2 separate regions of the Homo sapiens genome follow, and region 1 is linked to region 2. Evidence: fine-mapped expression QTL. A gene starts in region 2. The other region holds a variant in brackets. All regions are shown on one strand. Distances are from middle to middle. Region 1 overlaps EZH1 (enhancer of zeste 1 polycomb repressive complex 2 subunit). Region 2 holds the start of EZH1 (enhancer of zeste 1 polycomb repressive complex 2 subunit).

Evidence for each region. PIP is the estimated chance that this variant, and not a neighbour inherited with it, causes the effect.
Region 1: its variant is the best candidate, but not a certain one, in a credible set for the expression of EZH1 in whole blood (TOPMed, PIP 0.55).

The regions. Positions count from the first base shown.
Region 1 is chr17:42,714,479-42,719,014 of GRCh38, forward strand. It overlaps EZH1 (enhancer of zeste 1 polycomb repressive complex 2 subunit), which reads right to left. Exons shown (of 21, transcript NM_001991.5): 9 at 3,976-4,139; 10 at 3,498-3,589. It also overlaps the pseudogene RPL34P30. Among named protein-coding and RNA genes, the nearest start is that of MIR6780A, 8.6 kb to the left of the region's middle. The variant C/T (reference allele first, on the strand shown) is at 2,016.
Region 2 is chr17:42,742,816-42,746,815 of GRCh38, forward strand. It overlaps EZH1 (enhancer of zeste 1 polycomb repressive complex 2 subunit), which reads right to left and starts at 2,225. Exons shown (of 21, transcript NM_001991.5): 1 at 2,196-2,225. RefSeq lists a silencer at 1,803-2,382.

The DNA of each region.
Region 1 (4,536 bases), 28 kb before region 2:
AAAGTTCCTATGAGATTGTCCAAAACAAAAAAGCATGTCAGCAGGGCCTATGGTGGATCCGTGTGTGCTGAATGTATTGGTGCAGGAGCAAGTGTGCTTTCCTTAGCAAGCAGCAGAAAATTGTTGTGAAAGTGTTGAAGGCACAAGCAGAGTCAGAAAGCTCAATTTAAAAATGAAGTTTTTTTGAGTAATAAAAATGAAAAAAAAATAAAGGTTAACTATCATTAAGGGTATCTGGAATTTGGAATAATATACAGTAAGGCCTAAAGGAAATTCCAAAAGAGAAGTTTCAAAATTAACTGAACCTGATATTATGTGCCTATGCTGTGTATGAAGTATACAGTATCAATTATACTATTTTAAACATTTATATATATTTACATATAATTTTTATATATTATATATATAATATATAATATGGAAATATATTATATAATTATATAATTTATATAAATATAAAATATATATTTATATAATATATAAATATATGAAATTTATATAAATATATTTATATATAATTTATATAAATATAAAATATATATAATTTATGTAAATATAATTTATATATTATATATGTATTTATATACTATATATTACATGTATTTATATATTATAGATTATATGTATTTATATATTATATATAATAGATTATATGTATTTATATATTATATATTATAGATTATATGTATTTATATATAATATATATCATAGATTATATGTATTTATATATAATATATATTATAGATTATATGTATTTATATATAATATAATATATAATAGATTATATGTATTTATATATATATATATTTTTTTGAGACGAGGTCTTGCCCTGTCACCCAGGTGAGTACAGTAGCATGATCTCAGCTCACTGCAGCCTTGACCTTCTAGGCTCAACTGATCCTCCCACCTCAGCCTCCCAAGTCCAGTCCAGCTAATTTTTGTATTTTTTATAGACATGGGGTTTTGCCATGTTGCCCAGGCTGGTCTCGAACTCCTAGGCTCAAGCTATCCACATGCTTCAGCCCCCCAAATTGCTGGGATTACAGGCGTGAGCCACCATTTTAATATAATGGCCAAACATTTTAACATAAATAAAATCAAGTTTCCAGACCTAATTTCTAGGTTATAAGAAAGAGGAGACAGAAGAACACAGAAATGACACTGTGAAAAAACAACAGATGAATCCAGGATGTGGGTCATCCTACAAGACAACCAGCCTGGAACTTTTAAAAAGATTTTAAAAGTGATAGAATTATTTGAGATTAAAAACGAGTAAAAAGACATAACAAGGCCGGGCGCCTTATTACACCTGTAATCCCAGTACTTTGGGAGGCCAGGCAGTCTGATCACCTGAGGTTGGGAGTTCAAGACCAGCCTGACCAACACAGAGAAACCCTGTCTCTACTAAAAACACAAAAATTAGCTGGGCGTGGTGGCGCATGCCTGTAATCCCAGCTACTTGGGAGGCTGAGGCAGGAGAATCGTTTGAACCCGGGAGGTGGAGATTGTGGTGAGCTGAGATTGCACCATTGCACTCCAGCCTGGGCAACAAGAGTGAAACTCTGTCTCAAAAAAAAAAAAAAAAAGACATAATAACCAAATATGATGTCTGACTGGATGATCCTGGTTTGGAAACAAAACAAAACAAAACACAACACAAAAATACCTATTCTTGGTACAGCTGAAAAAAAAATTGAATATATTAATAGAATGGGTAATAGAGGATACTATACAATTTTTATTAATTGTCCTAGGTGTAATAATGTGGTTATGTAAGAGAATGTCTTTATGCTGAAACATTTACCAAATGAGCATCACAATGTCTGCAACTTATTGTCAAATGGTTCAGCAAAAGATATACATACGCAAATTTATGGAGAAAGGAGATACAGAAAAAAATGTTATCAAATCCAGGAAGAAGGTATCTTTCAACTCTGCATGATTGAAAATGTTCTTAGTAAACAGTTGGGGGAAAATAGTCCAGCATTATATTTAATATGCACTCAAACCTAAAA[C/T]GCAATAAAAGAAAAATTGTGCATACATTATCTCTGTAAGTTAAACATGCATACATTTCAGGCATTGGCAGCATCTTCGTAATACATGTACAGGGTATCAAGGTGACTCCTGTGAGAAGGGCAATGACCTTTTGACTTATATAAATGCTGGTATGTTGACATAACATGGCATATATATTTTTTTAAGGATGAAGTAATTTCATTTTATTATTATTTTTTTTTTGAGATGGAGTCTCACTATCTCACCCAGGCTGGAGTACAGTGGCGTGATCTCGGCTCACTGCAGCCTCCACCTCCTGGGTTCAAGCAATTCTCCTGTCTCAGCCTCCTGAGTAGCTGGGATTACAGGCGTGCGCCACCACACCTGGTTAATTTTGTATTTTCAGTAGAGACAGGGTTTTTCCATGTTGACCAGGCTGGTCTCAAACTCCTGACCTCAGGTGATCCACCTCCCTCAGCCTCCCAAAGTGCTGGGATTATAGGTGTGCACTACGACGCCTGGCTGAAAAACATGGAGTAATTTTAAAAGCATGATCTGTGGAGTTAGACCCTGACTTGAATTTCATCGCTGCCATACCGCTGACTTATCAACAAACTTTAGGCAAAATATATAACTTTTGTAATCCAGTTTCCTCTACCTCATGACACTGTTATAGGATGAAAATAAGACAAGGTATGTTAAGGGTCTACTATGATACTTGGCACATAGGAAGGAGTCAATACACATTAGGAAAAAATAAACCCAATAACGTCTATTCTTTTGCTTTTACAGTACGGCCCATTTTCCACATGTGTGCCCAACAGCATTCTCTACCATCTTTCCATCTATTATCCCACTAAAGATGGTTCCAAAAGCACTTGGCTGGTTGTATAATATAATTTTAATAGGTGGCAGAAATTTTATCAAGGTATTTTATTCATCGCCTAGGCTCATCCTATTGTGTAAAAAGCCCAACTGTGTCTTTGGCAAGTCCAGTTGATCTATTTCCTTCTAGCTCTCAATATATGGCTTCCCCACAGGTATGCCAGACCATTTATGCTGCTTCTTAAGGTCTGTCCATCAGGGAACGGTCCATCTGGTTGATCACAACAAGACATCAGCATCATCACGTGCTATTCGTCTCATAGTTATATGCATTTATAACAAGATAGCAAAGAAACTAGAGTGTGTACCCACCCCCCCAGCATACACTTTGCTCCAATTCTAACAATACAGTTTTAGGCTCTGAAATCTAAGCAGATGATATTTAGAGCAGGCAAGCCTTTAATGATCTTCGAATCTGCACTCCATCAGACTAACTTTATAGTGCTACCATGTCTGGGGAGTTCCTTAAGAGCGGTCCCACAGTAACTGGGGAGCTCCTTAAGAGCAAAAGCCATGTTTTATTTGTGCTATATGACCCCCAGAGTGCTGTGTACTGGCTCACGTGGCTTGTGTTCCCAGAATGAAGTTAATAATGCCAGAACAGCTTAAGAACATACCAGCAAAAGGAAGCAGTCTGTGCCACATGGTTCTGGTTCAATCTTGATTTCTTTATTCTTGCGTTTATATACATTAGGGGTGGCATGAAAAGCTGGAAAACAAAAACTGTCTTGTTGCCAGTGGTCTATCCACTTGACAAGATGGGGAGAAACAAAAGTGAATTAGAGAGCTATTGTAGGAGTTAGAATTCGATATAAACGGCTACCATCAGGGTGCACAAAATTCAGTCATTTCTGACATCAACACAATGCTTTCAAAGCTAAGAGGTACTGAGGGACAGATAAGTTGCTAGTTAGTCTGTCCCTATCATGCAAAGCATGTTGCACTATAATTGAGCAAGGGAAAATAGAACTGGCCCTTTGTAAAACGTTAGAACAGAAGCCAGGAACTCTATACGAGAAACCAGAACAAAGAGAAGGAAATGGTGGCTGGGGATGGAAGAGAGGAGAGCATTTCAAACAGAGTAGCCCCACTCACGGTGAAGGAAGCAGTCGTATTTAAAGCAGCGCCGGCAAAAAAGTGTGTGGAAGGAGTGCAGAGATTGCTCCCGCTGCACAGACTTGGCATTGGGGCCATCGATGTTGGGTGTGCACTGAGGGGGAAGTGCATTGGGGTCTGACATCTCTGTTAGTTCTCGATACCTATTTAAGAAAAGAGAGATAAGAGTTCCTCCGAGGAACTGCCTCCACTGAGGAAATACAGATTGGGTACTGACAGTAGCTCACCTACGGTCTGCCAAGGGAGGATGGGTGTTTTTTATAGGTCTGGTTGATAAGAGAATGGTAGATAACTAGAGTGGGTCCACCATTGTAATTATGCTGGGTTGGGCAAATGTTGGAAAGTAAGGGGAGGGAAGGATTTGTTAAGATGGTGCTGGAGTTAACTCTCCAGAAAAATGGCAGAGTAAATGTTCTCTGCCCAGACTCACTCAAAAGCCAGTATACGATGACCCTTAATATAGTAAGGGGGGCATTTAGAGGTAATTGAGTAAGCAAGAAATAATCAAATTGCGGGCAAATCATAATGCCCTTACCATAA
Region 2 (4,000 bases):
TATAGATAGTCCTTTCTCCTATTATGTATGTGCGTTTTTAAGTACTTCTCTCTCCCTTTTTTTTTTCTTTTTTGAGATGGAGTCTTGCTCTGTCACCCATGCTGCAATGCAGTGGTGCATGTCGGCTCACTGCAACTTCCACCTCCCAGGTTCAAGCGATTCTCGTGCCTCAACCCCCTGAATAGCTGGGATTACAGGCACCCACCACCACGCCCAGCTAATTCTTGTATTTTTGTAGAGAAGGAGTTTCGCCATGTTGCCCAGGCAGCTCTCGGACTCTTGACCTCAAGTGATCCGCCTGCCTTGGCCTCCCAAAGTGCTGGGATTACAGGCCTGAGCCACTGTGCCAGGCCTCCTTTTTTTTTTTTTTTTTTTGACAGAATCTCACTCTGTTGCCCAGGTTGATGTGCAGTGGTGCAATCTCGGCTCACTGCAACCTCCACCTCCCGGTTCAAGCGATTCTAATGCCTCAGCCCTCCCGAGTAGCTGGGACTACAGGCGTGTGCCACCACACCTGATTAATTTTTGTATTTTTAGTAGAGATGGAGTTGTCCCATGTTGCCCAGGCTGGTCTCAAACTCCTGGGCTCGAGTGAACGGTCCACCTCAGCCTCCCAAAGTGTTGGGATTACAGGCATGAGCCACCGTGCCAGGCTTTTTTTTTTTTTCTTGAGACAGGGTCTCAGGTGCTGTCACCCAGACTGGAGTGCAGTGGCAGGATCAGAGCTCATTGCAACCTTGACCTCCCAGTCTCAAGCAATACTCCTGCTTCAGCCTCCCAAGCAGCTGGGACTATAGGAGAAGGCCACCACATCTGGCTATTTTTTTTTTGTAGAGATGAGGTCTCGCTATTGTTGCCTGAGCTGGTCCCAAACTCCTGGGCTCAAGCTATTCTCCTGCCTGGGCCTCCCGAATGCTGGGATTTCAGATATGAGCCACCGAGCCCAGTCTAAAGTACTTATCTCCTAACACACACTCTCTCCTATGTAAGTAATCTCTTTTATCAGTGGCATATCTGGGGATTCCAAGACTTAAAATAGACAAGCTTTCACAGAAACCTCTAATAGGGTTAGCACCTTCTCAGGCTGGAAACCTCCTTCAATATCAGTTTCCTAAATTTAAAAAACATGGGGTGTGGGAATTTTTTTATTCAGCGGCAGTATGGCAGCAAACGTGGAGGAGACTCGCGTTTTCATTGCCATCCTTGCACCCACCTAATTGTTAGTGTACCTGAGCTCCTTTGCTTTCATCCTCCCCTGCCAAGCGTCAGGTTCCTATCGGCCTGGGCTACATCACATACAACCCTGTATTTCACCCTCCATATTCCTTCACATTCCACGGGGGGCACTAACATCCTTCAGGTATCCCTTCCCTTCCCTGCTCAAGAAACAATTCCTCAGTAGTCACTTTTTATTGAAATAAAAGTTTGTCCCACATTTCCTAACAGGCATGTCCCAAATACAACACCTTGTCTGTGCTTCAAGGCACTTTTATTTATATCATTTGATCCTCGGTTGAATGGTGGGGGTGAGCGATCATTGGCGTGAGACCAAAAGTCTGGAGTGAAGGAGATTCTTGCTCAGGGCCAGGCCTGGGGTGAGGCGACCGAGGCACCCAGGACGCACGTGAGGAGGCGCTCACTGCACTTGCGCGACCCTGAGTCAGTGCTCCTTTACACTTTGTGCCTTGGGAGCCTTACTCACCTCACCCTAGTCCCGGCCTTGTTTTTACTGCTACCCCTCCTCAACATCCCCGAAAGCCATCGCAAGATCAGCCCCGGTCTCTAGCCCTCCCCAAGCACAGCTCCAGGTCCCCAGAGTCCACCTCGCTAAAGGCCCCCGCAGGTGCCACCGCCCTCCCGCGCCCTTTGGGCGCTGGGGCTCCCGCCCACCGGCCCACACCGCCATCCAACGGGATTCCCCGTCCCCGAGCCCGCCCCCGCCGCTCCTCCTCCCGGGCACACAGCCCTCGCAGCCCCAGACGCTGTCCTCGCCTGGGTCTCTCTCGCCCCGTCGCCCCCATTCCCCCACCCTCGGAATGAGGAGGGGCGCCTGCTACCCCCGGCCAGGCAGGCAGTGTGTCCCTCGGATTCCTTCCAATTTCCTGATCCCTCCGCCTCTCCCTCCCTCAGGCCCAGGGCGGCGAGGGGAGGAGGCCCGGCCCCACCGCCCGGCCCAGGCTTGTTTACTCACTCACCCTCCATCCCGAGCCGCGGGTCCCGCTGCTAGGACGCATGCGCGCCGCGGCCCCACCCCTGCGCCGTGCCCCGCCCCGCGCCTCCTGTCGGCGCGTGCGCATTGACTTACCCGTGCCGCGCGGACGCACTACTGTCATTTGCCGCCAAAACCCCGCACTCAGGAGTCCTGGCGGGTGCAGCCTCCCAGACGGCTTCCAAAGCGGCGCTGGCAGGGGAGGGGAAGGGCTCTGGGGAAACCTTCGCAGAGCCACTAATATCTTCCTGAAGACCCTATTCAGCGGATTTGCCATCCCCACGCGCTGGTGACAAGCCACATCTCACTTCAGCGTTTGAAGCCAACCCAGATCACCTTCATACCGATGCTTCACCCCTACCAGTTCTCCAGACACCGGTCTATGGGTTCTAAGCCCTTTATTTATGTCTGATCTCCCTATTTCTGTTCATAGTTTTCTAGTCACTTAGAATCAAAATTATAGCCTTGTATCGAAATAAATCCCCACAAGACACCTGCTAGTTACAAAGGGAAAAAAATAGCAACTTTACAGATAAGAATCTGTCAGACACCACCTTAACTAAGTGATCAAAGTTAGCATCACTAGTGATAAGAGGTATTGTTTTCTTCTTCTTTTTTTGCCGGGGGGCGAGGCTGGACGGAGTCTCGCTTTGTTACTTACACAGGCTGGAGTGCCGTGGCGCGATCTCGGCTCACTGCAACCTCTCCCTCCCGGGCTCAAGCAATTCTCCCGCCTCAGCCTCCCAAGTAGCCAGGAATACAGGTTCGTGCCACCACGCCCGGCTAATTTTTGTATTTTTAGTAGAGATGGGGTTTCACCGTATTGGCCAGGCTGCTGTCAAACTCCTGACCTCAAGTGATCTGCCTACCTCGGCCTCCCAAAGTGCTGAGATTACCGGCATGAGCCACCACGCCCGGCCTCCCTCTTCTTTTTAAGGAGACAGGGTCTTGCTGTGTTGCCTAGGCTGGTCTTGAACTCCAGGGTTCAAGCCATCCTCCCACCTTGATTTCCCAAAGTGTTGGGATTACAGGCATGAGCCATTGCCCCCAGCTGAGAGGTATTCTTACCAGGTCCCTCTGAACATGATGCAATGAGAAGCGCACAAAATCACTTCTGTGGTATTCTTGACGAACACGCATAAGCTGATTTTTTGTGCGTGTTGTTTGTTTGTTTGTTTTGAGACAGTTTCACTCTTGTTGCCTAGGCTGGAGTGCAATGGTGCAATCTCGGCTCACTGCAATCTCTGCCTCCTGGGTTCAAGCGATTCTCCTGCCTCAGCCTCCCAAGTAGCTGGGTTTACAGGCATGCACTACTATACCCGGCAAATTTTGTAATTTTAGTAGAGATGGGGTTTCACCATGTTGTCCAGGCTGGTCTCGAACTGCTGACTCAGGTGATCCCCCCACCTCTGCCTCCCAGTGCTGGGATTACAGGCATGAGCCACAATGCCCAGCCTGCATAAGCTGAATTTAATTATGAGGAAACATCAGACAAATCCAAAATGAGAGACAATCTACAAAATAACTGGCCAGTATCTTCAAGTGTCAAGATCATGAAAGACAAGGGGTGAGAAACCATCTCAGATTGGGAGACTGAGGAGATATGACAACTAAATGTAATGTGTGATCCTGGCTTGAATCCTGGTCCAGAAAAAGAACACCAGTGGGATAATTTGATGAAATTAGAATAAAATCTCTAGATTAATTAATAGTATTTTATCAATCTTATTCCTGGTTTTAATCATTGTAATTGAGGAAGTTTGATGGACATATAGGAACTCTACCATATTT